Linked DNA regions of Homo sapiens. The protein of the gene in region 3 interacts with the protein of the main gene of each other region in a biochemical or structural test. Each region holds a gene or a part of one and is shown on either strand. Other genes may lie near its edges. The genes, in order: LEP, TLR4 and SIGLEC5.

Region 1 (9,827 bases), on a different chromosome or scaffold from region 3:
ATTACAATTTAGGGGTCATGCAGCTCCTGGCTCCAAGAGTCTGAACCTCCCCAAATTGCTCCTGGGGGTAAACAGCACTGTTGTAAAATCTAAGATCAGTGCTTGAGATATTTTGCAGAGCCTACACTCCATGGATAAGCTGACCCCACCCAGAGCAGTAATCTGGCCCAACCAGTTCTGCCATCGCACCCAGGAACAGAAGACATTAAGAAAACCTAACTTGACCGGGTGTGATTCTATCCCCAACCTGACCAATCAGCACTCCCCACTTCCCAAGCCCTTACCCGCAAAATTATCTTTAAAACCCCCTGCTCTGGGGAGACTGATTAGAGTAATAGTAAAACTACCGTCTCCTGCACAGCCTGCTCTGCATGCATTACTCTTTATTGGAATTCCCCTGTCTTGATAAATCGGTTCTGTCTACGCAGCAGGCAAGGTGAACCCATTGCGTGGTTACAAATGGTCTAAAGGCTTCTCTGCCTACACAGTGTTATTTAATATGGAGGAACAGCTGCACAGCAGGAATACCACGATGCCCCCTTGGGTGGGGGGAGTTGGCTTCTGTGGGACACCTGAGGCCCAGCAGGACTGGGGCAGAGCTTGAGGCCCTGATGTCTGCTGCTTTGGCTTTTTCCTGTGAGCTTCAGGACATGCCTCTCCCTGCCCCTTGCAGCTGGTTCTTACCATTCCTTCCTTGTTTGATTTGCTAAATCCCTGTCTTAGTTCACTGTTTCACACCCGCACTGACAGTCTGCTGTCCCCCCAAGGCCCTGGGACATCTGCCAGGCAGTGAAATCAAATGTGCTCTTTAAATACAGCTCAGCTCCACGTCATATTCTCCTTCTCCCTCTTCTCTCCCCACCTCCTCTCCTTCCTTCCCAGGAATGCAACATTGCCCAGGCAGGGGACGGGCCAGGCTGAACTGGACATTTCCAAAAAGTGTTTCTTCTGGAAATTTCACCCAAAAGGAAAGGGTCTGGTATAATGGACTCCCATGTATCTGTCACTTAGCTTTAGCAATTCTCAACATTTTGCTGATCTTGTTGATATATATATATAGATATATAGTTATTTATATAAAGTTTATATAATATTTATAAAAAATTATAAGATAAATTGTTTTGCTGAAGTTTTTTAAGGTTAATCCCAGGCATTGTGCTATTTCACCCTAAACTTCTGTTTGCATCTATCACGAATGCATAAGGAAGCACTGAAGAATAACTACACCACCATGCCATCATTATACCTAGTAAAATTAACTAGAATTTCTTATCAGCATCTGAAATGGAATTGGGACACATGTTCTCAGGAACTTCTGAGGTTGTGTCACTGGCAAAAAAGTTAGAAAGAAAGAAAGAAAGAAAGAAAGAAAGAAAGAAAGAAAGAAAGAAAGAAAGAAAGAAAGAAAGAAAACAGAGCCCCCATTTAAATTTTCCTCATCTCAAAGTTATCTTTTATACAGTTGATTTGGACCTCTATTTGAACTCAGAATGGTTTGTTGAACAAATTAAGATTAAGCGGAATACTAATAAGGAGTCTAACCTTTGATAGGTATGTTTTAAGCTTTTTGAATAATTTGCTTACATGTTAAATAATGGGCTTGCTATCCAAGAATCTCAATTTTTTTTTTTTTTTTTTGAGACAGAGTCTCACCTGCCACCCAGGCTGGAGTGCAGTGGCATGATCTCGGTTCACTGCCACCTCTGCCTCCCGAGTTCAAGCGATTCTCCTGCCTCAGCCTGCCAAGTAGCTGGGATTACACGCACGTGCCACCATGCCTGGCTACTTTTTGTATTTTCAGTAGAGATGGGGTTTTGCTATGTTGGCCAGGCTTGTCTCGAACTCTTGGTCTCAAGTGATCCACCCACCTTGACCTTCCAAAGTGCTGGGATTATAGGCATGAGCCATCGTGCCTGGCCCAAGAATCTCAATTCTTCTGGCCACCAAATCAGAATGGAGGGGTACATTGTGCTGGGCATTGTGCCAAATTAGTTGCATCATGAGGTGATGCTGAACTCTTTATTTCTTCTCTCTTCATTCCCCTCATCCCTCTTTCCCTGTGGATCCTGTCCTTCTTCCATCCCAGTGGATGCCTCTTTCTGTCCTTGCTCTGTCCCGTGTTAAGGGGCCTCTCCAAAGTGGATCCCTTCTTCCCGAGGACCCCTCTCTTTGTCCTCATTCCTTGGGATGGCACAGAGGCCTCTCTCTGGCTCTTGGTGTGTGCTTCCTGTGCCTCCCTGCAACCTGTTTCCCAGTCCTCTCAGCGTCCAAACCCAGCTCTGTTTTCTTTACAGGGTAATCCTTTTGCCTGAATAACTGGCGGCTGGCTGTGGCCAAGCCTGGGGCGGAGCTGACCCCAGTGATGGATGGGGGCCAGCCAGGCCTTGCCCTGTCACACACAAACAGCTCTCCCGAAGCCCCTCCAGGAACGGCGACAGGAAACAAAGAGCAGGGGGCAAAGTTATTTTATTTAGATTTTTTTAAAAACAAACTTTTTTTTTTTTTTTTTTAAGACGGAATCTCGCTCTGTCATCAGGCCGGAGTGCAGTGGCGCGATCTTGGCTCACTGTACTCTCCGCCTCCCAGGTTTAAGCGATTCTCCTGTCTCAGCCTCCCGAGTGGCTGGGACTACAGGCGCCCGCCACCACGCTCAGCTAACTTTTGTGTTTTTAGTAGAGACGGGGTTTCACCATGTTGGCCAGGATGCTCGCCATCTAGTGACCTTGTGATCCCCCCACCTTGGCCTCCCAAAGTGCTGGGATTACAGGCGTGAGCCACCGCACCCGGCCAAACTTTTTTTTTTTTTTTTAAGTTACAAAAACAGACAACCATTTATACTTAGGAAGTTTCACACTCTGGGAATTAGCCATTGTGCCAGGTTTTGTGAGCAAAAGGCTTAAGACACCTCAGCCTGATTAGGTGGTTGTGAGGATCTGGGTCACATTTTCCAGAGCAGCTCTCACCCTGGCCACAGCACCAGCCTCTTCTCTAGAACTTGCTACTCTTAACTCCTTTAATATCAAACTTCTTTACCCTTCAAGGTCCCTTCAGCATGGCCCTTGCCCTCCTGTCTCTTCTTTCTCTGCCTCTCGCTGTAACTCACTGCTCACACTTTTACCTCTGCATCTCCACACACCAAACCTTCCAACAAAACAGGCTTCTCTCTGCAGGCAATTCACATCCCTCACCTCCTTCAAACTCTACCTCGAAACTCCTCTTTTCCAGAAAGCGCTCGGTCTCCCTGGTTCCAGTCCCTCATTACCTGGCTCACGTAATGCTCTGGGTATCAGAGGACCTGGGCTATAGTCCTGGTCCTGCCACCTGTTGGCTGTTATGGTCTTATGTATTTTCTTATTTTTAAATTCTCAGTTATCTTGTTTCAAAGGGATGTGGCTATAATAGAAGCTAAGATGCCCTGAAAAGTAAACATGTTACAAAGTGCAAGCAGGGTTCCCTGTGGGCCCCTGGGCACGGCCCCCCTCAGCTCATACCATTTCCCACCTGCTGTCAACTGCACCATGCATTTGGCTGTTCAGCTGCTGTGGTAAATACCCCACCTTGGCACATGGGTGAGTGCGGTTTGACCACTGGGAATGCAAGATCCCTGAGGGCAGGCCTCAATCTTAATGTTTATTGGGTGAGCTTCTCCAGCCTATAGCACCAGTCAGGGCTGAGCATGAAGCAGGTGCTCAGTCTTAAAGTTAACTGCTTTGATTCAAGTTTCCTTGGACAGATCCACCACCCACTGTGTGATAGCAAAAACACAGCAGCAGGATGGTGGCAGACCCCAAACCTCCTCTTTCATCTTCCTGAATGTGACCTCCAGTGGGAAGGGCCATCCTGGTGGCCTGGCCTGGGGAGTCCTGGCACTCGCCTAGCAGTGCTTGTCAGGTCTCAGGACCACCTGCTAAAGGAGTTTTCTTCACCACTGGAGTAAAAACCCCCCAAGATTTTTGGTAATTTTGGCCTTGCTTGGGTGAGCCAATCAGACAAGAACTACAATTTGGCATGCAAGCCCCAAATAGGAACACTGCCATGTAATAAACCCAGAGTGTGATCAACCCTGGACCATTCAGAGGGTCACACCAAGGACCCCTGCTCTGAAGATCGCAGTCACCAGTGTGGGACCGTCACTCCATGATAGGAAAGACCACTCCCTAGCAGTCGGAGAAAGCCAGAGCTTACCACTGCCCCAACAAATGGCTTTCAGCCCTTTGCGTTTTATTCTGGATGGATTTGAAGCAAAGCATCAGCTTCTCCAGGCTCTTTGGGGTCAGCCAGGGCCAGAAACTTCTCTCCAGGGGGTGCCTGGCCAGGCCTCACAACCCCCCTGAAAGAGCTATTTTCATGAAAAACATCCTAAGCAATTGCAGAAGATAAGAAAATGATCTCACTCCTTCCAAAGAACCCACCACACAAATGTTATTCAGAAAACACATTCTAGATCCTTCTCCCTTCTGCCCAAACATTCCCCACCCCTGGGTGCAGACACCTACATATGACACTTGACAAAACAAATCTTTTTAAAATAACCTGGTCCTTGGAGATCCACTCAGGGCAACACCATTGCAAACACTGTGATGTAACATCAGTCACAGTAGAAATGAAACCAGTTACGAGAGAACTAACTGGAGAGCCACCTTTGCCAGCTCTTGCTCAGATGAACCCAACCCTCGAGTCACTCAAAATGGGTTCAGCTCAGCCAGACCCATCTATGGGATTGGAAACTGCACTCCAGGGAGACCCCTGGCCCTGGCTGACCCCAAAGAGCCTGGAGAAGCTGGTGCTTTGCTTCAAATCCATCCAGAATAAAATGCAGAATAAATAAACATGTGCTTCCAGCTTGTGTTGCTGGGAGTTCCTGCGTGTGTGGATGTGGTCTTCATGGAACTCCTTGGAATTCTCAGAGGGAACCTTGTTCTGGTCATCCAAAGGCTCTGCCTACCCCTCTGCCCTCTCTGAAATCACCCCTGGTCACATTGAGGCATTCAGTGAGGGGGAGATGGGTCAAGAGGGGACAAGACAACTCTTGTTGATGGCTGAAGACCTTGGTGGGAATCCCAGATGCAGCCCACTCTTTGCTGGGTGGACCCCCTTCCTGGTGAGAATAGGATCCTGTGTATATATCTTTGGTTTCAAGCAAAAGGAGGCTTAGGGTCTTATGCCTTTGGAAGAGTGGCTTAGAGGAGTCAGGGAAATTGACAGAGTCCTGGATAAGGGGTGTCCATGCAATGCTCTTCAATCCTGGAGATACCTGGAAGCCAGAGTTCCTTCCCTTAACGTAGTCCTTGCAGGAAGAGTGACCTTCAAGGCCTCAGCACCCAGGGCTGAGGTCCAGCTGCCACAGCATGTCCTGCAGAGACCCCTGCAGCCTGCTCAGGGCCACCACCTCTGTGGAGTAGCCTGAAGCTTCCAGGACACCCCCCAGGCTGTCCAAGGTCTCCAGGCCACTGGCCCAGGGCAAGTGGCAGCTCTTAGAGAAGGCCAGCACGTGAAGAAGATCCCGGAGGTTCTCCAGGTCGTTGGATATTTGGATCACGTTTCTGGAAGGCATACTGGTGAGGATCTGTTGGTAGACTGCCAGTGTCTGGTCCATCTTGGATAAGGTCAGGATGGGGTGGAGCCCAGGAATGAAGTCCAAACCGGTGACTTTCTGTTTGGAGGAGACTGACTGCTATGCAGGAGGAAGAGGGAGAACAAGTGCTCAGCATGTGGGAGGAATCGCTCTCAGAGCCCTCTGCCTTCCCCGTGGGCATGGAGGGTCATTCTCTGGGCTGCCTCCTTCCACCCTCCCTCACCACTTTGGCTCAGGCCCTTGTATCCTGCACCCAGGTGACTGCCAAGCCTCTAAGCTGGTCTCCGAGATTCCTGCTTTTCCCACACCATCCTTCCCTCCACTTCCAGGCCAACTTTCCTAGGTCATTCCTTTCTCTACATGGCCTCTGCTGAAGAACCAGCCATGGTTTCATATGTTTTATTTAGTGGAGTCTGTTCCCCAGGCATCTGAGGTCCTCCATAAGCACCCCCACCCCCAGCCTTCCCTAGTCCCTTCTACCCCCAGCCGAGTCCTCCCTCCCAGTCAGCTTTTCCAGGCAGTCCCTCCTCCTTAGAGATCAAGGCCGTACCCTCAGTGAGGCCCCCCAACCCTGCTCCAGTGACTCCAGTTCCGGGAGGCTCTCCCCATCCATCTGCCCACAGCACTGAGGCTGACACCTCCGTGGTTACTACCCGGGGCTCCCGTGATATTGTGTATTACACCACCCAAGGTGGGGCACTCGGGATCTATCACGTGCAGTCTTGCTGAGTGGCTAATATGCCCAGCTAATTTTTTTTTATTATTTTTAAAGGAGACAAGAGTTTTTATCTATAAAATGCCCAAGACTCTATCTAGTTCTGAGCCATCTTTGCTTCCAGACACCTAACTTCTCCCTAACTGCCCAAGACTACCATAAGACACCCACAATGACCAGGAGACGTGGAAGTCTCCAGAGAGCTCCATGCAGGGGGTAAGGAGGATTCAATTGCTTTAGCTAATTTAGGCCTCATAACAACCTTGTGAATAGTGTGTGATATCCCCATTATCCAGATGATGAAAACAAGGCTTAAAGACAGTAAGGAACTTGCTGAAGATCTCACAGACATCAGAAGTGTGAAGATTCAAACTTAATCTTCCTAATTTCAAATACAGACCTCATCAGGAAAATGGCTGAAGGTCTAGGCCTGCTGGACCCCAGAGAAAAGACCAGGGTGGGCACTGACTGCTATTTGCAAATCAGTAGAGGGTTGAATGTGAAAAAGGGTAGACTCGCTCTTTTGGGTATCTTTGAGCGGCAGGGCCAGAGATCAGCTGGAACTACAAGAACCCTAATGACAAGCACATCTAGAGATGGGATAGAGGCCCTGAGGAGATGCTTCTGGGGGTCTTGTTCCTGCCAATGGGACACAAGGAACTTCACAGCTCCCTCTGGTCGTAGGCACTAAGATTCAAGGAAGTGAAGTCAGGGAGGAAGGCGAGCGCAGAAGGTGGGGACAGAGGGGACAGGAAGGAAAGAGACAGTGGCTGTGCCTGCATGTGGCTCAGCTAATCGCTGAGGCCTGGGTTTCCCCTTGGTAGGTTGAAAATAAGCACGTGAGGCCTCATGAGAATCCTATGATTTTTTTCTTATCTTTAATTTTTATTTTTTTAAAAATTAGAGAGAGAGGTCTTGCCATGTTGCCCAGGCTGGTCTTGAACTCCTGGCCTCAACTGATCCTCCTACCTTGGCCTCCTAAAGCAATGGGCTTACAGATGTGACCCATCATGCCTGATCAAATCCTATGACTTTTATTTATTTATTTATTTATTTTGAGACAAGGTCTCACTCTGTCACCCAGGCTGGAGCACGGTGGCATGATCAGGGCCCACTGCAGCCTCAACCTCCCAGGCTCAGGTGATCCTTCCATCTCAGCCTCCCCTAGCTGGGACCACAGGTACACACCACCATGCCCAGCTAACATTTTTTATTATTTTTGTAGAGATGGGGTCTCCCTATGCTGCCCAGGCTGGTCTCGAACTCTTGGGCTCGAATGATCCTCCTGCTTTGGCCTCCCAAAGTGCTGGGATGACAGGTACAAGCCACCACACCCAGCCCAAATCCTATGATTTTTAAATGGAAACATGTAGCAAAATCAAATGTTCTTGGAGTGGTTTAGAATTAGAACCACTAACCCCTGGAATCTCAGCAGGCAGAGGGGCCAAAAGAAACAACCAGAAAGAGTGGAGCCCTGTGCTTTCAAATCCTTCTCAGCTTCCAGTAGGTGCCTGGCATTCAGGAGGCGTTCAATAAATGTTTCTTGGACTATCTGGGTCCAGTGCCACTAGGAGCCAGTGCTGGGCTGGCTGCAGTTCTACTTTGTCCCCGCATACTCTCCTTACCGTGTGTGAAATGTCATTGATCCTGGTGACAATTGTCTTGATGAGGGTTTTGGTGTCATCTTGGACTTTTTGGATGGGCACAGCTTGGACATAGAAAAGATAGGGCCAAAGCCACAAGAATCCGCACAGGGTTCCCCAATGCATTTTCCTTCCCAGGATGGGCTTCTTGGGCCTGAAAACAGAAGGAACCACACACTGCAAGGAGCCGGTATCTCAGAATACACCCATCTTCACATTACCAACCACATTACCAGACGGGGATGAAAATCAGCTTTGCTTTCTGCTCTGGCTACCATCCCCTCAAAGTCAAAGACAATTCATGATCTACATATGTATTAATGAAATGCATCCCCTTAGAAAGAGGATTATTGTCTGGTCAATAAAACCACCATGAGGTATCCTGTAGACCACAGAGCTGTGAGGCCAGGGTGTGATCAAATGGACATGGTAGGGATGATGTAGACTTCATTGCATGCTCGAGGGAAAGATAACAGACTTTTAAGGTCTGGTTTGAACCCAGTCATTTACTCACTGCATAATTTTAAACATATCACATAACCACAAAATACTCCACCTTCATCCCTGTAATATATCTATCTCTAGGCTTTTATGAGGATCAAATTATCTGATGCACGTGAAAGGGCTTAAAGGTGTTGTGAAATGTGCTCTATCATTACCCTATCATTAGCGATTATGCTACTCACCCATCCTCTGCATTTCTCCCTCACACCAGCCTGCTGATACTCTGTGAGGGCCTTTACCACTTGCTTCCTTACGTCCTTTCTCTCCCACCCACTGGGAGCCTGAATCCCACTAGCACTTACTGACCTTCTAAATAATATGTCAGACGCAGTGCTCAGCACCGAGGATGCAATGGTGAACAACAGATGCTCTCTACCCTCGAGTGGCTTACAGTTTAATAGGAGAAACAAACAGGTCAATGGGCCATTCTAAGCCAGGAGGAAAGAGCTTTGCAAAAAGGGCAGGTACAAGATACTACTGGAAGGCACAGGGGGCTCCCTGGAAGAAGTGTCTCCTGAGCTGGGGATTGGACTAAATATGGGCTACTAAGAGTAGAAAGTGGTTGCCATAGTGGCTGAGAAATCAGGGGGTATAAAGACATGGTGGCGGGAGAGAGCATAACACATTCACCCAGAACGCTTGAAACTTTCAAAGTCTTGGAACTGTGAATTCTAAAATTAAAATAATATGCAGATCCTTGATTAAGCAGCAAAATTTTAATGAGATACATGAGGCAAAAGGTAATAAAGTTAAATGTATGCGAGTCTGTGGCCAATGATCCATGCTAAGTATATGTGCATGAGCCTGAAATAATAATAAAATGTAAGTAAATATTAGGATGACGGTTCTGGAGATGGCAGTAAAATTAATCTCCGCTTTTCGTGTTCTTCCTCGTCTGGGTCTTGATGAAGACAGGTAATACATTTTCTGTCCATAGATGGCAATATTAGTAGGATTCATTTCTGGCAATACAATAAAAACAAGCAGTCTGTCTATATATTATTTATAATGTTTGATCAAAGCCATGTTTTTTTAATCTGAATTTCACAGAAGAGAAAAATATGGGGCTCAGGAATAGGAGTCAACTTGCCCAAAGTCAAACAGGTCCATGACAGAGTCAGGATTCAGATCCAGAAAGCAGGAGTGCGAGCCACCCACCCCTCCAGCTCCTCAAGGATTTAAGGAAAAGCCCAAATCACACCCCAATTCCCAGTCAAGGGCAGCTGCTGGGAACATGGCATTTGGAAACAAATACCCTGCTCTGGAATAAAGCTATGGTATTGTACCCACATCTCAACTTCAAACATGAAAAGTACTATGTACCAAGTAATTTGGGAAAAGGCAAATTTATGTCTTAAAAAAGTAAAACTTCCTCTATTAGCTACTTGTT
Region 2 (9,975 bases), on a different chromosome or scaffold from region 3:
AACGTTATCTCATAGATAAACAGAGACCAAAGAGCAAAGAGATCAAGAGATTTGCCTTTGTTCAACAGCCTGTTAGTGGTGGAGCCATTTCACTATCAATGTCTTGTTTCCACAGCCTTTCACCTATAACTCAATGGGGTTGATAGCTTAATCCTTTTCAGAAATGAGGGAACATGGGAAATATTATAAATACATGGATACATCATGACTTGACGAATGAGTCTCCCGTTTTGATATAGCATCATCAGGTTTAGAACGCTAAAACCACATGTTAAGGATGCTGGAAAATCTGGATGATGAAGTTACACCTCTAATCATAGAATAGAATTCCTGGAATGGACATTTACTCCAATTGCCACAATTTATAGGTAAGGAAACAGCCCTGGAGATGTGAACATGCTAGAATGTCAGAGAGCTGGCCTGACCCTCAGCAGCCGTTTGGTTCATTCCTTTCTGACTGCCAATCTTTCTTGTGACACCTTCAAAATTTTTCCAAATCTGCATACCTTTTATATAATTCATTTCATCCCGTTTTTTTCCTAAGTTGGCCCACATTTTAAACTTAAATATATTTTAAAGAGATAATTGATTCTTAGCTAGTCACAAAATTTATTATAAATAAAAGTAACCATGAAAATAAACATATAACCACTAAAGGTAATACATTCATCTGTCAACCACATAAAATCATCTTATTTACTAACATGTCACACTTTTGAAAATGCTGATCTGACCTAAATGTCCCATTTTACAAATGAGAGACCTGAGCCCAGAGGTGCGCTCCCGGTGGCAGACCTGAATCCTAAACCTCACTACCTCTATCGCTGTTCACTTATCTGATCTCAGCTGTTAATATGCCAGAAACTGGCAAAGGTATTCCCTGCCTTTAGTGGTGCTAGACTCTCAGGTGCTGAAACCACAGCTAATTCAGCCAAAGATGATGTGTAGAGAGGACTCAGAAGGCCCTATTAATAACTCAGCTGAGCACAGCACTAGCCAGATATTCATCCCCTGCCATTAATTTCAAAAGTGCTCTTTGCAAGCAGGAAAATTTTGACAGCAGGTGTTTCCCACTGGGGAGCAGTAGACTCCTCAGAAGACTCAGGGTCTCAGCTTAAAGACCAAAACTACTGAATTTCAACCGTCAGTGATCACTTCCCCAATTCCCCTCAACGATAAGGAAAAAGGAGTTTCTGGGAAGATTGGCAGTGGCCCAGCAAGTTTTCGCAAGGAAATCCTGTGTTTTTCAGAGGGGAAAGTCATTTTTGGAATCTTAGTACTCAAGGCAAGATGAATACTTAGCAAAAGTGGAGTTAAATTTTACTTTGATATATTTTGGACTGGAAACAAAAAACAACATCACATTGACAACAGATGCCTCAGAGAGTTTAGAAAAGACCACAACATTTTTCTGGTATATATTTATGTGGGGTCTCAGCTACCCAGGATGATAAAGAAGGGAAAATGACAACGTGATAGGTAGAAACTAGGAGAACTAAAATGATTGCATGGACACAACATCTAAATGGATGTAGTGAGCTCACCATCAAATAGGCCAATCCTAGTATCCCAAAGAGTCTGATCTAGTGGGATTGAGAAGAATCAACTATACAGTGTAAAATAAAAATACATTATCTGACCTTGCCTGGGCTATCATGAATCTTAGCAATAAATCTCAAGAACAAAACCAATAACCATATTAAATGTGGGTGGTTATTCTCCATTTTCCATTATAACAGTAATTCCCAAATCTGTCTGTGCACGAAAACTGGGAGAATATTTTAAAATATAAATTCCTTAGGACTAACCTCTGATATTGAACCAGAATTTCTAGCAATAAAGATCATAAAGATAGATAATTAGTACCTAGATACACAGACACATAGATAGCAGAATGAAAGTCATTAAGTGATTCTTAAGCCAAGCATTTGTTTAAAAGTGAGAGTTTGGGACCTGCTCAACTTTGTCATCTTCATATATGGTTTCCATTTTAATCGTTGTATTGAAATAAAATCAGCTGTAGACTGCCTGGAATTCTTTGTCAAAATGAAGTTTGCAAAAAGAGGCTAGAAGAAGATAGAAAAGATGTAAGAGAGAGAGCAAGTGATTTGGAGACACAAGATCAAGGAACCGATCTTGGGATAGAAAATACTCTTCTCCAGTTCCATCCATGCTCTCACTTATGAGTGGAAACTAAATAATTTGTAGACATGGACATGGAGAATGAAATAACAGACATTGAGGACTCAGAAAGGTGGGAAGGGGTTAAGGGATGAGAAAGTACCTAATAGGTACAAAGTACACTGTTCAGTTGATGGTTACGCTAACAGCCCAGACTAAACCATTATGCAATATATTCATGTAACAAAACTGCATTTGCACTCTCTAAATCTATAAAAATTAAAATAAAATTTTCTAACCTTGAAGAGAGTCTTTGTTACCCATCTTAAAAAGAATGAAGTCAGAGTAGAGACATGAAGTTGTCTTTTTTTTAAATAGTTTTTTTAACTCTATATTTTTATATAGTGTCTCCTAGGGAATCCCACAAATAGAAAGAGTGTTTATTCCTTTCTGAGGAGGAGAACAGACCTCCCAGAGTCCAAAGGGAAAGACAAGGACAGTCCCAGGAAGAGGAAGGGTCATGCACTAGCATCTCACGGCCGAGCCCTAGGAAGACGGAGGGGCAAGGTCCTGGGGTGGCTGTGGATAGAGTCAGGCTGGGTTATTTCAGGTCAGTCCTGCCTTGCTTGGCCCATGGGAAATGGGGTGTTGTTAGTATGAGTCAAGAGCTCAAATTGGTAACTGGCTGGTTTTGATTTAATTACATAGTGAGATAGTTTCCTAGGAGCATACAACACAATCCTTTCTCCTAAACGTGAGTTTAATTTTCAACAAAACACTTCTCTCATAAACATCACGTCATTTCTAAACCTTTATTGCCATTCCCAGAACTGCTTGCAGCCTTTCAGAAACCCATTATTTTATAATTATAATCAAGACTATTAGGACAGGACAATTTGTGCCAAAAAGCGCATTTACACTCAGAATTGTCACTTAGCACTGTCACAGGAGGGATCATCTTTATTTCTGTAGAAATCAAGGAGAGTTGCAGACTCTGCCTTTTAAACTTTTAATTTCTAGATGGCATGGGAGTTACTGACCTTGTCTAAATTATTCTCCATTCACTCCACTAACCACCCCTGGCAGAGTAGCCCAGGACATCACAGCAAGCAATTATGTTATGGAAAGAATGCAGCCCCAAGAATCAGGCCAACCCAAGTTCATATCCTGATTCTGCTCCTTCCTATTGAACAATTCAGTCCTTTCATCTGTTTCTTCATCTGTGGAATGGCAAAGCTACAAATACCTGCATCAGAAGGTCATTTTAACAATTAAATGAAATAATATACAACTAAAACGGTGCCAGACATGCACCAAAAGCTTAGCAACTTAAAAAAAATACAGAAGGTGCGGCAAATGTTATTGTGATTAATATAAGCTGTGTGACCTAAGGCAAGTTACTCGTCCTCTCTGGGCATCTCTTTTCTCATTTCTAAAATGAGAAGAGTAGCCTTTAACTCACAAGGTAGCAGTAACGATCAGATGATCACGCATGGTGCTCAATATAGTTGGTTCCTTTTGATCGACCATTTACTCCACAGATTTTACTTTGAGTTGAAAAGTTCGGTGATCTCCATAAGGGCAGCCAGAGTGTGTGATCTTATTCCAACCATCTGGAAAGTCCTAAGCTTTTGGAACTTCCCCCATAACCTCTGTGTTTAATCACAAGTCTGTGATGCCCGTCAGGAAGTCAGACCAACTGTAGACATGATAGAGCAACCCTAGGCATGTTGTTCAAAGAAAGGCCATCATCTAGTGGGCCTGATTTGTTCACTGTTAAAAAATCTTTGATCACATAACTTAGATCACATTTTTCCTGGCTCTTACAGCTGTAATATAAATAAAAACAAGTAATAATAATAATACTTCTCTTTGTTTAATATCAGTCAAAATTATAATGGTGAGATAGGAAGTTTTATGCATTTTGTGAGAGCAGGGTGCTCTTGCCATAGAACAGTATTTAGAAGCCCTGCTTCTGCGGTGAAGTGGACTTAGATCCTAATCTCAGTGCTGCCACCAATGAGCAGGTGACAGTGGACACATGACAGAATGACTCCCAGACTCAGACTCCTCATTTGTAAATTGGAAATACTTTCGTATCTTTCTAATTCATTGATGTGACAAACTGAGATAGCACAAATAAAGCCCTTGCATAAAACAATTGATCAATTAAATGTAACTATTGTAACTATCAACATTATCATTTTAACCAAGTGAGGTCTGCCAACAAGGTATTATTACCTCCATTTCATGAATTAAGACCTGAGCCTCAAAGCACTTGAATGACTTGCCCACAATCACACAAGTAAATGGAGACACTGGCTTAGACTTTGGTTTTCACTCTCCCAGGGAGTTCACTGTCACATATTGTGTGAGTTCATTTAAGCTTCTCCAGGAGCCTGCTGATGATTTCTAAAAAGTTTATAGAGTCCAGAAGAAGACTGGGGTCTGACAATCCCGTGAGTAGAGAATGAATCAGAAAGAAATGTCTAATTTTAGTTACAGTCACTTCTGTGGTTCCACAGGCTGGAAAAATAGCAATTACTTTAGTGTTGTTACTGAGAAGACCTCCCAGTGCTTCTCCTAGTGCCCTCTTAATAAAGTCTTAGGGGAGTACTCACCCATAAGGACAGTGTCCCCGTATTGAACATAATACATGATTTTCAATCCTTAGAGCAACCTTACAAAGTCATAGTTCTATTCTTATTTTACATTGGAGCTAAGTAGACTCTCAGAGAAATGGAGCCCAAGGCACACAGTTGATAAGGAGTGAATTTGAGTTTTGGCTTTCTCCAAAAGCCACGCTACTCAAAACACCAGAAAAATGGAAAGCACTGTATTAACGCTCATTCTCGGTGTCTTTCTCTCCTCTTTTTATTCTATGTCCAGATTTTCTACTTATTATTGATTAACCCTATTGTTCACATATCCTTTGTTTGAAGCTCCTTCAAGTCCTTTATGGAAAGATAGGGTTATAAATAAATCATTTGGTATGTATAACATATATGCATATGTATTGGCTTAATGATTCATGGCTTCAACTGAGAAACCCTTGCTAGTGTCAACCACACAGAAAACTGCAGGAGTTTCACTTCCTGTTTTGCCAACTTTAAGCATGAAGCAATTGGGTGTGGAAGAAAGAAAGTGTCCTTGAGTGACCTGGAGGCCCAGGCTCAGGTTTTGTCACTTTCCTACTCTGTGGGCTATTGAAAAATTTACTTCATTGAACTTCAGCTTTCCCATCAATAAAATGGAAAAAGTTAATTATGATTTGCTACCTTACTCAGCTAATGAGATATTCAAATATATAGTTTTGTGAATATGTTTCAAGTTGTAAGGTATCACACAAATTTAAGGCATTACAATTGGCATTAATTTATCCTTATTCCACCCTTTATCCCTCTTAAATCCAGAGGATTTAAAGAGCTAAAAAGAGGCTGGCTGAGGCCTGACTTTACTCTTTCTTCTCCTTCTGTTCTATGCATATAATTTCTTTCCCTGCTTGTCCACCTCACCTGCCATTTCTAGAATTTCCATCTGGGAGAGGGAACTGATAGGAAGGAGGCCAATGTCAGCCTTGAATATTTCGGCCTTGAAATATTCCAAGTTGTATGTTGATCTTCCTTCTCAGAGCCTTGTACATTTGCTTGAATAAACACACTTATGCAGAATTCATATTCAAATATGAATAGAACCACACTTACATGTAGCACGGATATACACAAAATCATACATTTTCAAGCATACTAAGAAACTGAGGCATACATCTGTAGATAAACAATCATGTATGTATGTTAGTTCCTCACTTATCCACAGTTTCACTTTCCCAGGTTTCATGGTCAGTTATGGTCTGAAAATAGGTGAGTACAGTACAGTAAGATATTTTGAGAGAGAGAAAGAAAGAGATCACATTCACATAACTTTTATTACAATATATTATTATAACTATTCAATTTTATTGTTAGTTATTGTTAATCTCTTACTGTGCCTAATTCAGAAGATGAACTTTATCTTAGGTATTTATGTATAGGAAAAAATATTGCATATATGAGGTTTGGTACCATCTGCGGTCTCAGAGATCCACTTGGGGTCTAAGAACGTATCCACCAAGCATAAGGGATAAGGGGAGACTACTGTACAAGCACAAGAGTAGAGAACTCATCTCAAACAGCCATAGACATCCATTTCAAATGGATGTATTCTTCAAGAAATATAATCACACTCTCTTCTATACAGATATGATCATGCGGACACACACACTTTCAAATACACACAGCCCTGATAGGGATACATAGGGATATGTGCACAAATGCACACATCTACTTTCACTAGTACATGAGACATGGAAACACACCCAGGGATGTTCAATCACCCTAGACCTGCTCAAACCAAACACACTCTGAAACACTCAGTAACAAACACTTCTGACTGTGGTCATATTTCCAGTTTTGACAACTGAATTTTGTTGTCTTTTCTTTTTTATAGCTTCATTCAGACATAATTGATATTATAAAACTGCATATATTTAATGTATACAATTTGATGAGTTTAGACATAGTCACATACCTGTCAAACCATCACCACAATCAAGGTAATAAATATATCCATCACCTCCAAAAGCTTCCTTGTGTATATGTATATGGTAAGAACACTTAACATGAGAGGTACCCTCTTAACAAAATGTTAAGTGCATAATACAGTATTGTTCATTATACGAACTCTGCTATACAGCTGATCTTTAGAGCTAATTCATCTTGCATACTATAATTTTATACCAATTAGACAACTCCCTATTTCCTCATTTCTCCCTTCCTCCTTTTCCCTAGGAACCACTGTTCTATTCTCTGCTTCTATGAGTTTGACTATTTTAGAACCTCATATAAATGAAATCAGGCAGTATTTGTCTTTCTGTTACTTGCTCATTTTACATAGCATAATGGCCTCCGGGTTTATTCATGTTGTCATAAATAACAGGATTCCCCCTTTTTTTAGGCTGAATAATATCCCATTGTACGTATATGCACATTTTCTTTGTCCATTTATTTTTCAATGGAAATTTGGGTTGTTTCCATAACTTTGGAAACAGTGATTGTGAAGAGTGCCACAATGAACATGGGAGTGTAAATATTTTCTTGAAATTCTGATTTCAATTATTTTGGGTATATATACAGAAGTGAGATTGCTGGATCATATAGCAGTTCTATTTTTAATTTTTGAGAAACCTCCGTACTGTTTTTCATAACGGCTACACCATTTTCCATTCCCTCCAGCAGTGAAGAAGGGTTCCAATTTCTCTATATCCTTGATGACACTTCATTTTTTTATAGTAGCCATTCTACCTGGTATAAGGTGATATCTCATTGTGGTTTTTATTTTCATTTCCCTGATGACATCCTGATTGTCCTTTTCTTGAATGTTCTGTTTCTGAGGAGGCTGGATGAACATTCTTTTCTGGGAACCTTCTTTATAAGAACCCCATTAATTCCAGACACATTGTTTTCTCAATGATAACATCCACTCTTCCCAAAATGTGGTCAAGGAGCATTGCCCAACAGGAAACAGCAATGTATACTCCCTGCCTTGAATACCTTCACACGTAGTTCTCCTGGCAGTGAGAAGGGTACAGGGGAGGGATCCCAGCCATCTGTGTCTCCCTAAAGAGATTCAGAGGTCCATCAAACATCACTTGTTCTGAAAAAAATAAACTTCTGCTGCAACTCATTTCATGAGGTCACCCCGGGTTTATCAGCCCATATGTTTCTGGAATCAAGAAAAGGTGACCTCCTGAGGTCATCCCACTTCCTTCCTGCCTCTAGCCCAAATTGTCCATGATAAGACCAGGAAGCGGAAATTTTCTTCCCGTTTAAAAGAGTGCCCCCTTTAAACAAATTATTTCAATGCTGCTTTCATGACAGTCATTACTTAGTAGGCAATAACTTTGGAATGACATCGAGTGACAAAGTGACAGAGTGTACTTTTCCATACTTCCTTGAAAAATAGTGGTTAATATGGATATTTGAAGCACGTCTTAAACAACCTTATTTATGATATTAGCTTATAGGCAAGACGTAAAAAAATGAAAACTGGATATATAAAAATAAAAATATATCAGGGGTGATTAGTTAAAAAATAGAACATGCTCGAGAATGACCAGGATGGTTGTGAGCATGTGTTAATCAGGTTTCCTTAGGAATTAGCCACTAGACTTTAACCTCTGTAAGGAGACAGACTTAAAATGGAAGGGGCATCTTGCATCAGGAGCCCCTTGACGACTGCAGTCATCAAGTAGAATTTAAATTGTATTCAATCAAAAAGGAAAAAGTGAACACCCAGTTCAGTCAAAACTACCAAAATGGTTTTATGATGGCTATAACATAATACAATTTCCATTCAAAAGACTCAGGAAAAGAACAATGTCTCTTTCTGTTTTCTCTGTCTTTATTCAACTTGATGAGGTAAGAGTTGAAATGACTTTCTTTGTCATGGGTTCCTTGACTGAGTTGGTTGAAATGCCCACCTGGAAGACTCTGTATTTTAGTCTAGCATTTATTCCCTCTGCACTGGAAGCTCCTTGAGATTAGCAGCCCTGCATATCTAGTGCACCATGGAATTACTCACCCTTAGCATAAGGCCTGACATGTGGCAGCATTTAATACTTATTAACTGAACAAGTGTTGGACCCAGCTGGGCAAGAAATGCCTCAGGAGGTTTTTATTTTTCCTCTTCAGATAGATGTTGCTTCCTGCCAATTGCATCCTGTACCCACTGTTCCTTCTGGATTCCATGATTTACCATCCAGCAGGGCTTTTCTGAGTCGTCTCCAGAAGATGTGCCGCCCCAGGACACTGTCCTCCCACTCCAGGTAAGTGTTCCTGCTGAGAAGGCGGTACAGCTCCACCTGCTGCCTGAGCAGGGTCTTCTCCACCTTCTGCAGGACAATGAAGATGATACCAGCACGACTGCTCAGAAACTGCCAGGTCTGAGCAATCTCATATTCAAAGATACACCAGCGGCTCTGGATGAAGTGCTGGGACACCACAACAATCACCTTTCGGCTTTTATGGAAACCTTCATGGATGATGTTGGCAGCAATGGCCACACCGGGAATAAAGTCTCTGTAGTGAAGGCAGAGCTGAAATGGAGGCACCCCTTCTTCTAAATTCTTTACTAGCTCATTCCTTACCCAGTCCTCATCCTGGCTTGAGTAGATAACAAAGGCATCATAGATGTTTTCACCTCTACCATACTTTATGCAGCCAGCAAGAAGCATCAGGTGAAAATAGAACTTATAGACCAGAACTGCTACAACAGATACTACAAGCACACTGAGGACCGACACACCAATGATGGTCTTATTCATCTGACAGGTGATATTCAAACTCAGCACAGGCATGCCCTGCTTATCTGAAGGTGTTGCACATTCCATTCGTTCAACTTCCACCAAGAGCTGCCTCTGGTCCTTGATCCATTGCAGGAAACTCTGGTGTTCACAAGTACAAGCAAAGTCATTCTGAGTAAGATTTAAGAAAGCTAGACTACTTGGAAAATGCTGTAGTTCCTGTTTTTTGGAAGTCATTATGTGATTGAGACTGTAATCAAGAACCTGGAGGGAGTTCAGACACTTATAAGGAAACGTATCCAATGAAAAGAAGTTGTTGTGGCTCATATTTAGTACCTGAAGACTGGAGAGTGAGTTAAATGCTGTTGGAGACAACTGCTCCAGTTGACACTGAGAGAGGTCCAGGAAGGTCAAGTTTCTCAGCTCTGTGAAGATATCTGGAAGGAAGTTTTCCTGGAAAGAATTGCCAGCCATTTTCAAGACTTCGAGACTGGACAAGCCATTGAAGATGCCAT
Region 3 (10,328 bases):
TGGCCGGGCCCAGTGGCTCATGCCTGTAATCCCAACACTTTGGGAGGTTGAGGTGGGAGGACCGCTTGAGCCCAGAAGTTTGAGACCAGCCTGGGCAACATAGTGAGAACCTGTCTCTACAAAAAATTAAAAAATTAGCCAAGCATAATGGTGCATTCCTGTAGTCCCAGCTATTTGGGAGGCTGAGATGAGAGGAGTGCCTGAGCCCAGAGAAATAGAGACTGTGGTGAGCCCTGATCACACCATTGTACTCCATCCTAGGTGACAGAGACACTGTCTCAAAAAAAATTAAATAAATAAAAACCCAAAATAAATAAAAAGAAAAATTTATTATTTGCCACTTCCTCTATCACACTTGATGTTTCCTGTGGTTGAGGTCTATTTCCAGGCACTCAATTTTGTTCCACTTGGTCAATACATAATTGTCACTTTTTTTTTTCAGACAAGGTCTCACTGTGTCACTTTGTCACCTTGGATGGAGTGCAGTGCTGCAATCTTGGCTCACTGCAACCTCCACCTCCTGGGCTCAAGTGATCCTCCCACCTCAGCCTCTCAAGTAGCTGAGACTACAGGCATGAGCCACCCATGCCCAGCTAATTTTTGTGTTTTTTGTACAGATGGGGTGTCACCATGTTGCCCAGGCTGGTCTTGAATTCCTGGGCTCAAGTAATCCTTCTGCCTCGGTCTCCCATAGCGCTGGTATTACAGGTGTGAACCATTGAAATGGGCCTATTTTCTCACATTTTTAAAAATTTGAGACAGTCTCACTCTGTCACCCTGGGTGGAATGCAGTGGCACAATCTTAGCTCACTGCAACCTCCACCTCCTGGGTTCAAGCAATTCTTGTGCCTCAGCCTCCTGAGCAGCTGAGATTACAGGCACATGCCACGATGCCCAGCTAATTTTTGTTATTTTTTAGTAGAGACAGGGTTTCACCATGTTGGTCAGGCTGCTTTCAAACTCCTGACCTTAAGTGATCCATCTGCCTCGGCCTCCTAAAGTGCGGGGATTACAGATGTGAGCCACTGTGCCCCGTCTGAAATGGTCATATTTTCTGTAATGTTATGATACATCTTTTTATCTTGCAAAGCCATTCATTGTTCTTCATGGTTGCCTTGACCATACTTGAACATTTCTACTTCAGTATAAATTTTACAATAGAGTTACCAAATTGCACAAAAATCACCCGGGAGATTGTATGACATATTCCTTTGATGCTGTAGATTGTTGGGTAAAATTGGCATTCATACAATATTGTTCTCAAACTCATCAACATGGCCTCTTTTTCAGTTTATTTACATCTTGATTTATTTATTTTTTATTTATTTATTTTCTTGAGACGGAGTCTTGGTCTGTCGCCCAGGCTGGAGTGCAATAGTGCAATCTCGACTCACTGCAACCTCCATCTCTCAGGTTCAAGTGATTCTCCTGCCTTGGCCTACTGAGTAGCTGGGACTACAGGTGCCTGCCACCACACCCAGCTAATTTTTGTATTTTTAGTAGAGATGGGGTTTCACCAGGTTGGCCAGGGTGGTCTCGAACTCCTGACCTCAGGTGATCCACACGCCTCGGCCTCCCAAAGTGTTGGCATTACAGGCGTGAGCCACTGCGCCCAGCCTATTTACATCTTTAATGTCCTTGAATACAGATTTATAATTTCCTCCATAGAGGTGACATATACATATTTTTGTTAGATACATCTCTAATAGTTAGATATATTCCATATATTCAAAAATTATATCATATTTTTTGATATTGATAAATTATATCATAATTTTTGAAGCTTTTGTCAATGGCATTTTTATAAAATTCCATTTTTATTACTGTGATGTGGAAAGACAACTGATTTTGTAATTTGATTAATCTCTGGCTGTCTTGCAAATATTTTATTAAGGCTTCAAATGTATCCGTATATACTTTTGGATTTTTCTTTTTTTTTTTTTGAGATGGAGTGTCGCTCTGTCGCCCAGGCTGGAGTGCAGTGGTGTGATCTCCACTCACTGCAAGCTCCACCTCCCAGGTTCACACCATTCTCCTGCCTCAGCCTCCCGAGTAGCTGGGACTACAGGCGCCCACCACCACGCCCGGCTAATTTTTTGTATTTTTAGTAGAGATGGGGTTTCACCATGTTAGCCAGGATGGTCTTGATCTCCTGACCTCGTGATCCGCCTGCCTCAGCCTCCCAAAGTGCTGGGATTACAGGCGTGAGCTACCACGCTTAGCCTGGATTTTTCTATATGTGCAGTCATGTCATTGATAAAGACCTCTGTTAAAATTTCATTGTAATTGCTGTACCTTTTGCTTATTTTTATTGCCTTATTATGCTAGGACCTGAAGCTACTTCATTAGGTATATGATGTTTGCTGAAGACACCCTTTATCTTGTTTGGGAAATTCTCTAAAGAGAATTTCTAGTTGGCTATGAATTATATCATAAAGGGATTTGAAATCACCCAATGCTCACTTATTCATCTCTTGAGATTTAATTAGTTAAGGCTGATGTGAAAACAGAAGCCATACTATGTATTTTAGGAGAGGGAATTTAATATTAAGATTTTAATATAAAGATAAAAATACCATTTTCCTACATAATCAAGTCTTTATCTTTAGATCCTACTAGCCGGTATGATGAATTACTTTCACAGTTCAAATGAGGAATAAAGTTCAGAATTTGCAATAAGAAAAAGAAAAAAGAAAAAATTATTCTGACACCTGTTAACATTGACTATTCAGGATGACTGAGACAGGTATCAAGACTAGTGCAGGCCAGGCACAGTGGCTCATGCCTGTAATCCCAACACTTTGGGAGGCAAGGCAGGGAAATGACCTGAGGTCAGGCATTCGAGACCAGCCTGGCCAACATGGTGAAACCCCCATCTTTACTAAAAATACAAAAATAAGCTGGGCATGGTGGCATGCACCTGTACTCCCAGCTACTCAGGAAGCTGAGATAGGAGAATCGCTTGTACCTGGGAGGGGGAGGTTGCAGTGAGCTAAGGTTGCACCACTGTACTCCAGCTGGGACAACACAGTGAGACCCCGTCTCAGAAGAAAAAAACAGAAGTCAATTAAAAAAAAAAAAAGACTAGTGCAATAATGGAGATAGGTCAGGCTCAACTCGGAATACAGCAAAGACCAGGGGGGTTTATGGGCAAGAAGCATAGTGCAGCAGGTGAGGGAGGCTGGCCGTGTGTGTTAGTGGACGGAAAACTACTAAGAGGAGACACTGAAGATACCGGGATTCTTTCTAAACTGACTTAACAGGATTCTTGCTGAAAGCAGGCCAGCATGATCAGATACCAAGGGTGAGGGCTAGGGAATTTGATCAGATAGTGAAGGCGATCAGATATCAAGAGTCTTGCAAAACCAACTTAGCAGGATTCTTGCTACAGCTGGACAAGGCAGTCCCAAGGACAAAGCCTAGTTGAAAAAAGGGTTCAGAGGAGCTTTCATAAGTTTGGTTAAGAAGAGAGTCTTTGTGACTCTTTAGAAAAAAAAATACAAAAATACAAAATTTGGCACACATAGGATGATTTTTGGACTGAGAAAACACATCAAATCACAAAATCTAAAATGTCAAAATATGAGACAACTCAGAAAAATGGCATACTATGTTTGTTAATAGTATAGTCTACCTGTCTGCTACACCTGCATACTTTTTCCCTATATTTTTGACTGATTTTCTTTGATTGCCTTCATAATGGTGATAATTTTTTTCTTTTTGAGACAGAGTCTCACTTGGTCACCCAGGCTGGAGTGCAGTACCGTGATCTTGGCTCACTGCAACCTCTGCCTCCTGGGTTCAAGTGATTCTCCTGCCTCAGCCTCTGGAGTAGCTGGGACTATAGGTGTGCGCCACTATGCCTGGCTAAATTTTTGTACTTTTAGTAGAGAGGAGGTTTCTCCATGTTGGCCAGGCTGGTCTCGAACTCCTGATCTCAGGTGGTCCACCCGCCTCCTCCTCCCAAAGTGCTTGGGATTACAGATGTGAGCCACTGTACCCGGCCAATATTGGAGAATAATTTTATAATACAATTTTTATAGATAGAATAGAAAGAGAAGTCGGTATTTCTTCTGGCATGGGTGGTTGACGTTTGTTTTGATCATTGATAGTTTAAGAAACTGTCTTTATTCTCACAACACATTAATCGGAATGTGAAAAATTTTTAATATATTGTTAAATTTTGGGAAACTATTATGAAATTTCTTTCATAAAAGAGCAGTAACAAGGCAGGTTATTTCCACACATTGCGTGGGCCCCTCCTGGGCATCTGAAAAGTGGATCCTGCAAGGGAGGGCATTGAAGATTGAGCTTCATCAGCCTCACAGTGGCAAATTTGCTTCTGTAGCTCCTTAATAGGATGAGGCTTTAGCAGGGCTTGTGTTTCACTGCCGTCCCACAAGACCCTCAGGTCCATCAAGACCCAAAGTGGACTGTGCTGTGTCCCAAGAATCTTCTTAACATAAGAGTGCTTCAGCTCTCTCATGCTCTGACCCTCCACGAAATTTGGGTCAAAAAAATTTTTTTTCAGCCCTTTTGAACTTTTTTTTTTTTTTTTTTAAGGCAGGGTTTCACTCTGTTGCCCAGGCTGGAATGCCGTAGTGCGATCACGGCTCACAGCAACCTCAAACTCCTGGGCTCAAGGAATTCTCCTATTTCAGTGCCCCGGAGGAGCTGAGACTATAGGTGTGCCACCACACCAGCTAATAGTTTTTATTTTTTGTAGAGATGGTGACTTGCTATGTTGCCCAGGCTGGTCTCAGACTCCTGGGCTCAAACAACCCTCCCACCTCAGCCTCCCGAAGTGCTGGGATTACAGGCATGAGCTACCATGCCTGGTCACTTTGAACATTTAAAATCAAATTTAAAATTATGTATTTCCAGAATGTTTCATGGTTTTTAGGTGGAGGGTGGTTCTGACATCTCACCTCATCACCAGGACAAGCCCTTGTTTCTCTTTTCTTTCTGCATTCAGCCCCCTGAGGATCTCACTCATGACTGAAACATCATTTGAGGGGTGATCACCTCCAGATCCTCAGCTGGACAAGCCTCACATCGTCTGGGGGCCTCAGTATCTTCACCTGCGGCGTCCAGTCGGGGTGGGAGCAGAATGGCTTCCCAGCCCCCGCCTCACCCCAACAGCACGTGATGCCCAAGTTCCCCTTCTGTGCGCGTCCACAGCTCTCACTCACCCTCCGGCTTCCTGTCGGGGCTTTCTCAGCCCCACCCCACGTTTGGACATTTGGAGCATTTCCTTCCCTGACAGCCGGACCTGGGACTGGGCTGGGGCCCTGGCGGATGGAGACATGCTGCCCCTGCTGCTGCTGCCCCTGCTGTGGGGGGGTGAGTGAGCTGAGGGAGGAGGGACAGGCACAGGGGTGAGAAGGGGGGCTGGAGCTGCAGCTGAGCTTCTGTGTCCCCCCAGGGTCCCTGCAGGAGAAGCCAGTGTACGAGCTGCAAGTGCAGAAGTCGGTGACGGTGCAGGAGGGCCTGTGCGTCCTTGTGCCCTGCTCCTTCTCTTACCCCTGGAGATCCTGGTATTCCTCTCCCCCACTCTACGTCTACTGGTTCCGGGACGGGGAGATCCCATACTACGCTGAGGTTGTGGCCACAAACAACCCAGACAGAAGAGTGAAGCCAGAGACCCAGGGCCGATTCCGCCTCCTTGGGGATGTCCAGAAGAAGAACTGCTCCCTGAGCATCGGAGATGCCAGAATGGAGGACACGGGAAGCTATTTCTTCCGCGTGGAGAGAGGAAGGGATGTAAAATATAGCTACCAACAGAATAAGCTGAACTTGGAGGTGACAGGTATGGCAGGGACCCCAGGAGAGGACCCTGGGACGTGGAGACCCCCGTATGAGAACAGGGACAGGAGTTGGGCAGGGGCGGCTGGAGGAGGTGTAGGACTTGGGGCAGGTCGGGGCCTGAGGCCTGGCCACTCTCGGGGTCACACCTTACGTCCTCAAGCCCCTGGGGCCCAGGTATCTCCCTGTCTCCTCCTCAGCCCTGATAGAGAAACCCGACATCCACTTTCTGGAGCCTCTGGAGTCCGGCCGCCCCACAAGGCTGAGCTGCAGCCTTCCAGGATCCTGTGAAGCGGGACCACCTCTCACATTCTCCTGGACGGGGAATGCCCTCAGCCCCCTGGACCCCGAGACCACCCGCTCCTCGGAGCTCACCCTCACCCCCAGGCCCGAGGACCATGGCACCAACCTCACCTGTCAGATGAAACGCCAAGGAGCTCAGGTGACCACGGAGAGAACTGTCCAGCTCAATGTCTCCTGTGAGTGGTGCTGGGGACACAGCTGAGTCCTCAAGGGCAGTGGGAGTGAGGGGTGTGTGTGTGTGTGTGTGTGTGTGTGTGTGTGTAAGGAAGACAGAGAGAAACAAAACAATAACTTGAGAAACCTTGTGTGTGGATCTAAGCCTTGGGATCTGCGGGGAGTGAGACAGGACAGCCTTCCCCGCTTGGTGGGTTTCTGTGGCTCCTCTTTGGGTACCTCCTGGGCCCATGCCCATCTCACTCCTCACTGCTGAAGCCAAGTTTATATCTTTTTATCCCAGATGCTCCACAGACCATCACCATCTTCAGGAACGGCATAGGTAGGAAAGACCTCCTCTCTGAAGCTGGGACCTGCCTCTGGGTCTGTCTCTGAGCAGAGGTAGAGAATCAGAGCTTGAATGCAATCAGATTTGGGAAGAGCAAGAATGAGAATTACTGCCTTCTGGCTTCCACCTTCTGTGAGCCCCATGTGCAGGCACATATGCACACACGCACATACACACGCACACATGCACACACGCACACACACACGCACACACACACATGCATATACACCACACACATACACATGCAATACACCACACACACACGCACATACACACACACATGCACACAGGCACACATGCACACACACCACACACATATGCACACACACACATACACCACACAGGCACATGCACATACACACGCACACATGCACATACACCACACACACATATGCAGATACACCCACACACGCACACATGTACGTACACCCGCACACGCACACACACACGCACACAGGTGCACACTCATGCACTCTGCTCAAAGCAGTGAACAGACTTTAGACCCCACCCATCTCCCATCCCTCCTGTGGTCTGGTTCTTTCCACAGTCACTAAGGACCACTCCATGCCCCTCTCATCTCAGTCAGCCCAGCTCTGTGGTTCTTCTCTCACCCTTCCACTCCTGCATCCTCAGTCTTATTTCCTGTCACATTAGCGGACTGTATTTCCCAACGCCACCGGGGGCTCTCTGTCCTCTCTCCACCACAGTCCAGGCATGTACCAGTGAGATATTGAGCCTCCTCTGGAGACATGAGACTCAGACACTTTTGGTCAGTTTCCTGAGTGTGCAAAGGCCCAGCCTTTGAACCAGGATGCAATCAAGCCAGCATAGGCCAGGGGAGGAGAGGGAGATGTCATCTGGATCCTGGGAAGGAGGGAAGGATAGGGACTGTCAGCCTCCCTGGCCCCATCTCTCTTTCCCCACCCTTCTCTCCCCAAAGCCCTAGAGATCCTGCAAAACACCTCATACCTTCCGGTCCTGGAGGGCCAGGCTCTGCGGCTGCTCTGTGATGCTCCCAGCAACCCCCCTGCACACCTGAGCTGGTTCCAGGGCTCCCCTGCCCTGAACGCCACCCCCATCTCCAATACCGGGATCTTGGAGCTTCGTCGAGTAAGGTCTGCAGAAGAAGGAGGCTTCACCTGCCGCGCTCAGCACCCGCTGGGCTTCCTGCAAATTTTTCTGAATCTCTCAGTTTACTGTGAGTGTGGGGGCAGCTGGAGCAGGAACTGCATGGTATTAAAGAAGGAAGAGGCCCCCTGCTGAGTTCTGTCCTCCCTCCCCACAGCCCTCCCACAGTTGCTGGGCCCCTCCTGCTCCTGGGAGGCTGAGGGTCTGCACTGCAGATGCTCCTTTCGAGCCCGGCCGGCCCCCTCCCTGTGCTGGCGGCTTGAGGAGAAGCCGCTGGAGGGGAACAGCAGCCAGGGCTCATTCAAGGTCAACTCCAGCTCAGCTGGGCCCTGGGCCAACAGCTCCCTGATCCTCCACGGGGGGCTCAGCTCCGACCTCAAAGTCAGCTGCAAGGCCTGGAACATCTATGGGTCCCAGAGCGGCTCTGTCCTGCTGCTGCAAGGTCAGGGGGCGTATTGCAGAGGGCAGGGGCCTGAGGGGAGGGGCATGGATCCCAGAGTGATGGATGGTGGGAGAGAGAGGCTGGACTGGTGGTGGGGAGACAGGGTTCTTCATCTCCTGTCTGAGCAGGGCCCTGGAGCAAGTTGCCCAGCAGGTGGGAGGACAAGAGTCTGAGTCCTGGGAGTGAGTTATTGCACGCCCCTCTTTTCTGCAGGGAGATCGAACCTCGGGACAGGAGTGGTTCCTGCAGCCCTTGGTGGTGCTGGTGTCATGGCCCTGCTCTGTATCTGTCTGTGCCTCATCTTCTTTTTAATGTAAGTCTTGGTCCCAGGGAAGGTACAGGGTGGTGTTTGTAGGGAGTAGGAGAGACTGAATCTCAGAAACACAGAGCTAAGGCCAGAGGTGGTGATGTGTGCTTGTGGTTCCAGATGCTCAGGAGTCTGAGGCAGGAGGATCACTTGATCATGGAGGTTGAGGCTGCAGTGAGCCAGGATTGTGCCAATGCACTCCATCCTGGGCCTCAGAGTGAGAGACCCTGTCTTAAAAGAAAAACAAAACAAAACAAAAAGCAGAACTGAGTAGATCCAGAGAGGTCTTCTTTCTTTTTTTCTTTTCTAATAGCTTTATTGAGATACATGTTTTGTACAATTCATCCACTGAAAGTGTACGAGTCAATGGCTTTAAGTATATTGACAGAGTTATGCATCTGTCACCAAAATCAATTTTAGAACATTTTCATCAGCCTAAAGTGAAAAACGAAGACATAAAGAAACCTTGCACCCCTTAGCTATCACTCCTGCTTCTTTCCCCCAGCCCTAACCTATTCCATGTCTCTGTGGATTTGTCTGTCCTGAAGTTGCAGTTGTACTTTGTGTGAATGGAATCACGCGATATGTGGTCCTTTGTGGCTGGCTTCTTTCACTCGGCCTAATGTTTTCAAGATTCATCTATGTTGTAGCATGCATCGATACTTCATTCCTTTTTGTTTTCAAATAATATTCCATTATATAAATGGAACGCATTTGATTTGTGGGTTCAGCTGTTGACGGGTACTTGGGTTGCCTCTGCTTCTTGGCTATGATGCATAACACTGCTATGACCATTCCTGCCATGGTTTTGTGTGTAAGAGGGGGTCTATATGATGGAAATTCAGTCCATGGCCACCCTGACCAAATCCCTGGTTATCCAGGAGGATGGAGCCCTCACTCCGAAGTCAGGAAGGTCTCCGAGTTTAGTTCCGGGGCCTGGATGGCTTCATTGTCATTTTCACCATCTTAGCATGGGATGGGACAACCCGCTAACCCGTGCCTGGGTGGTCCCAGCTGCACTGTGCTGGTTTCTTTCCTTAGAGTGAAAGCCCGCAGGAAGCAAGCAGCTGGGAGACCAGAGAAAATGGATGATGAAGACCCCATTATGGGTACCATCACCTCGGTGAGTGGTTTGGGGATCTTCTCATGTGCATGTCCACTCGGAAAGTCCAGGCTGAGCTCTTCAGCATTCCACCAAACCCACTCCTCCCTCATCACCTGGGAGTTCTCTTCTCTCCTGTTCTCCCCCTTCATATCCCAGAGCCAGGAAATCATTATGTCCCATTCAACCTTCTTTGTTTTGTTTGTTTGTTTGTTTGTTTTTGAGATGGAGTTTCACTCTTGTTACCCAGGCTGGAGTGCAATGGTGCGATCTTGGCTCACTGCAAACTCCACCTCCCAGGTTCAAGCGATTCTCCTGCCTCAGCCTCCCAAGTAGCTGGGATTACAGGCGCACACCACCATGCCCGGCTAATTTTTGTATTTTTAGTAGAGACGGGATTTTGCCATGTTAGGCAGGCAGTTCTTGAACTCCTGACCTCAGGTGATCCGCCCGCCTCGGCCTCCCAAAGTGCTGGGATTACAGGCGTAAGCCACCGCGCCCGGCCACCAACCTTCTTTCTAAAAGTAAAACTAACTTGTCCTTTGCTCATCTTCCCTCCCCACCTCTACTGACCACAGAGCCTGCCTCACTTCCTCCCTGCCTCCATCTCTCATTCCAAACTTCAGGCTGCCAGAATCATCGCCCCAAAACTATTACTTCCCAGGCAGCCTGGAGTTTCAATGTTGTTGTTGTTTGTTCCTGTTGCTTAGAGAATCAGGCCCATGTTCCTTGCCCCACA

The links.
Region 1: the proteins of SIGLEC5 (region 3) and LEP interact in a biophysical measurement, tested with the Homo sapiens proteins (one study listed by IntAct).
Region 2: the proteins of SIGLEC5 (region 3) and TLR4 form a complex in vitro, tested with the Homo sapiens proteins (one study listed by IntAct).

Annotation. Positions count from the first base shown.
Region 1 is NC_000007.14:128,250,251-128,260,077, reverse strand, and holds the end of LEP (leptin precursor), read right to left. Parts: intron 8,088-9,827; 5' UTR 8,060-8,087; coding exon 7,916-8,059; intron 5,675-7,915; coding exon 5,315-5,674; 3' UTR 2,449-5,314; downstream 1-2,448. UniProt on the Homo sapiens protein: Key player in the regulation of energy balance and body weight control. Once released into the circulation, has central and peripheral effects by binding LEPR, found in many tissues, which results in the activation of several major signaling pathways.
Region 2 is NC_000009.12:117,713,519-117,723,493, reverse strand, and holds part of TLR4 (toll-like receptor 4 isoform A precursor), read right to left. Parts: coding exon 8,846-9,975; 3' UTR 1-8,845.
Region 3 is NC_000019.10:51,625,314-51,635,641, reverse strand, and holds the start of SIGLEC5 (sialic acid-binding Ig-like lectin 5 isoform 1 precursor), read left to right. Parts: upstream 1-5,240; 5' UTR 5,241-5,306; coding exon 5,307-5,343; intron 5,344-5,425; coding exon 5,426-5,809; intron 5,810-6,005; coding exon 6,006-6,284; intron 6,285-6,565; coding exon 6,566-6,604; intron 6,605-7,550; coding exon 7,551-7,808; intron 7,809-7,895; coding exon 7,896-8,180; intron 8,181-8,393; coding exon 8,394-8,493; intron 8,494-9,528; coding exon 9,529-9,610; intron 9,611-10,328. UniProt on the Homo sapiens protein: Putative adhesion molecule that mediates sialic-acid dependent binding to cells. Binds equally to alpha-2,3-linked and alpha-2,6-linked sialic acid. The sialic acid recognition site may be masked by cis interactions with sialic acids on the same cell surface.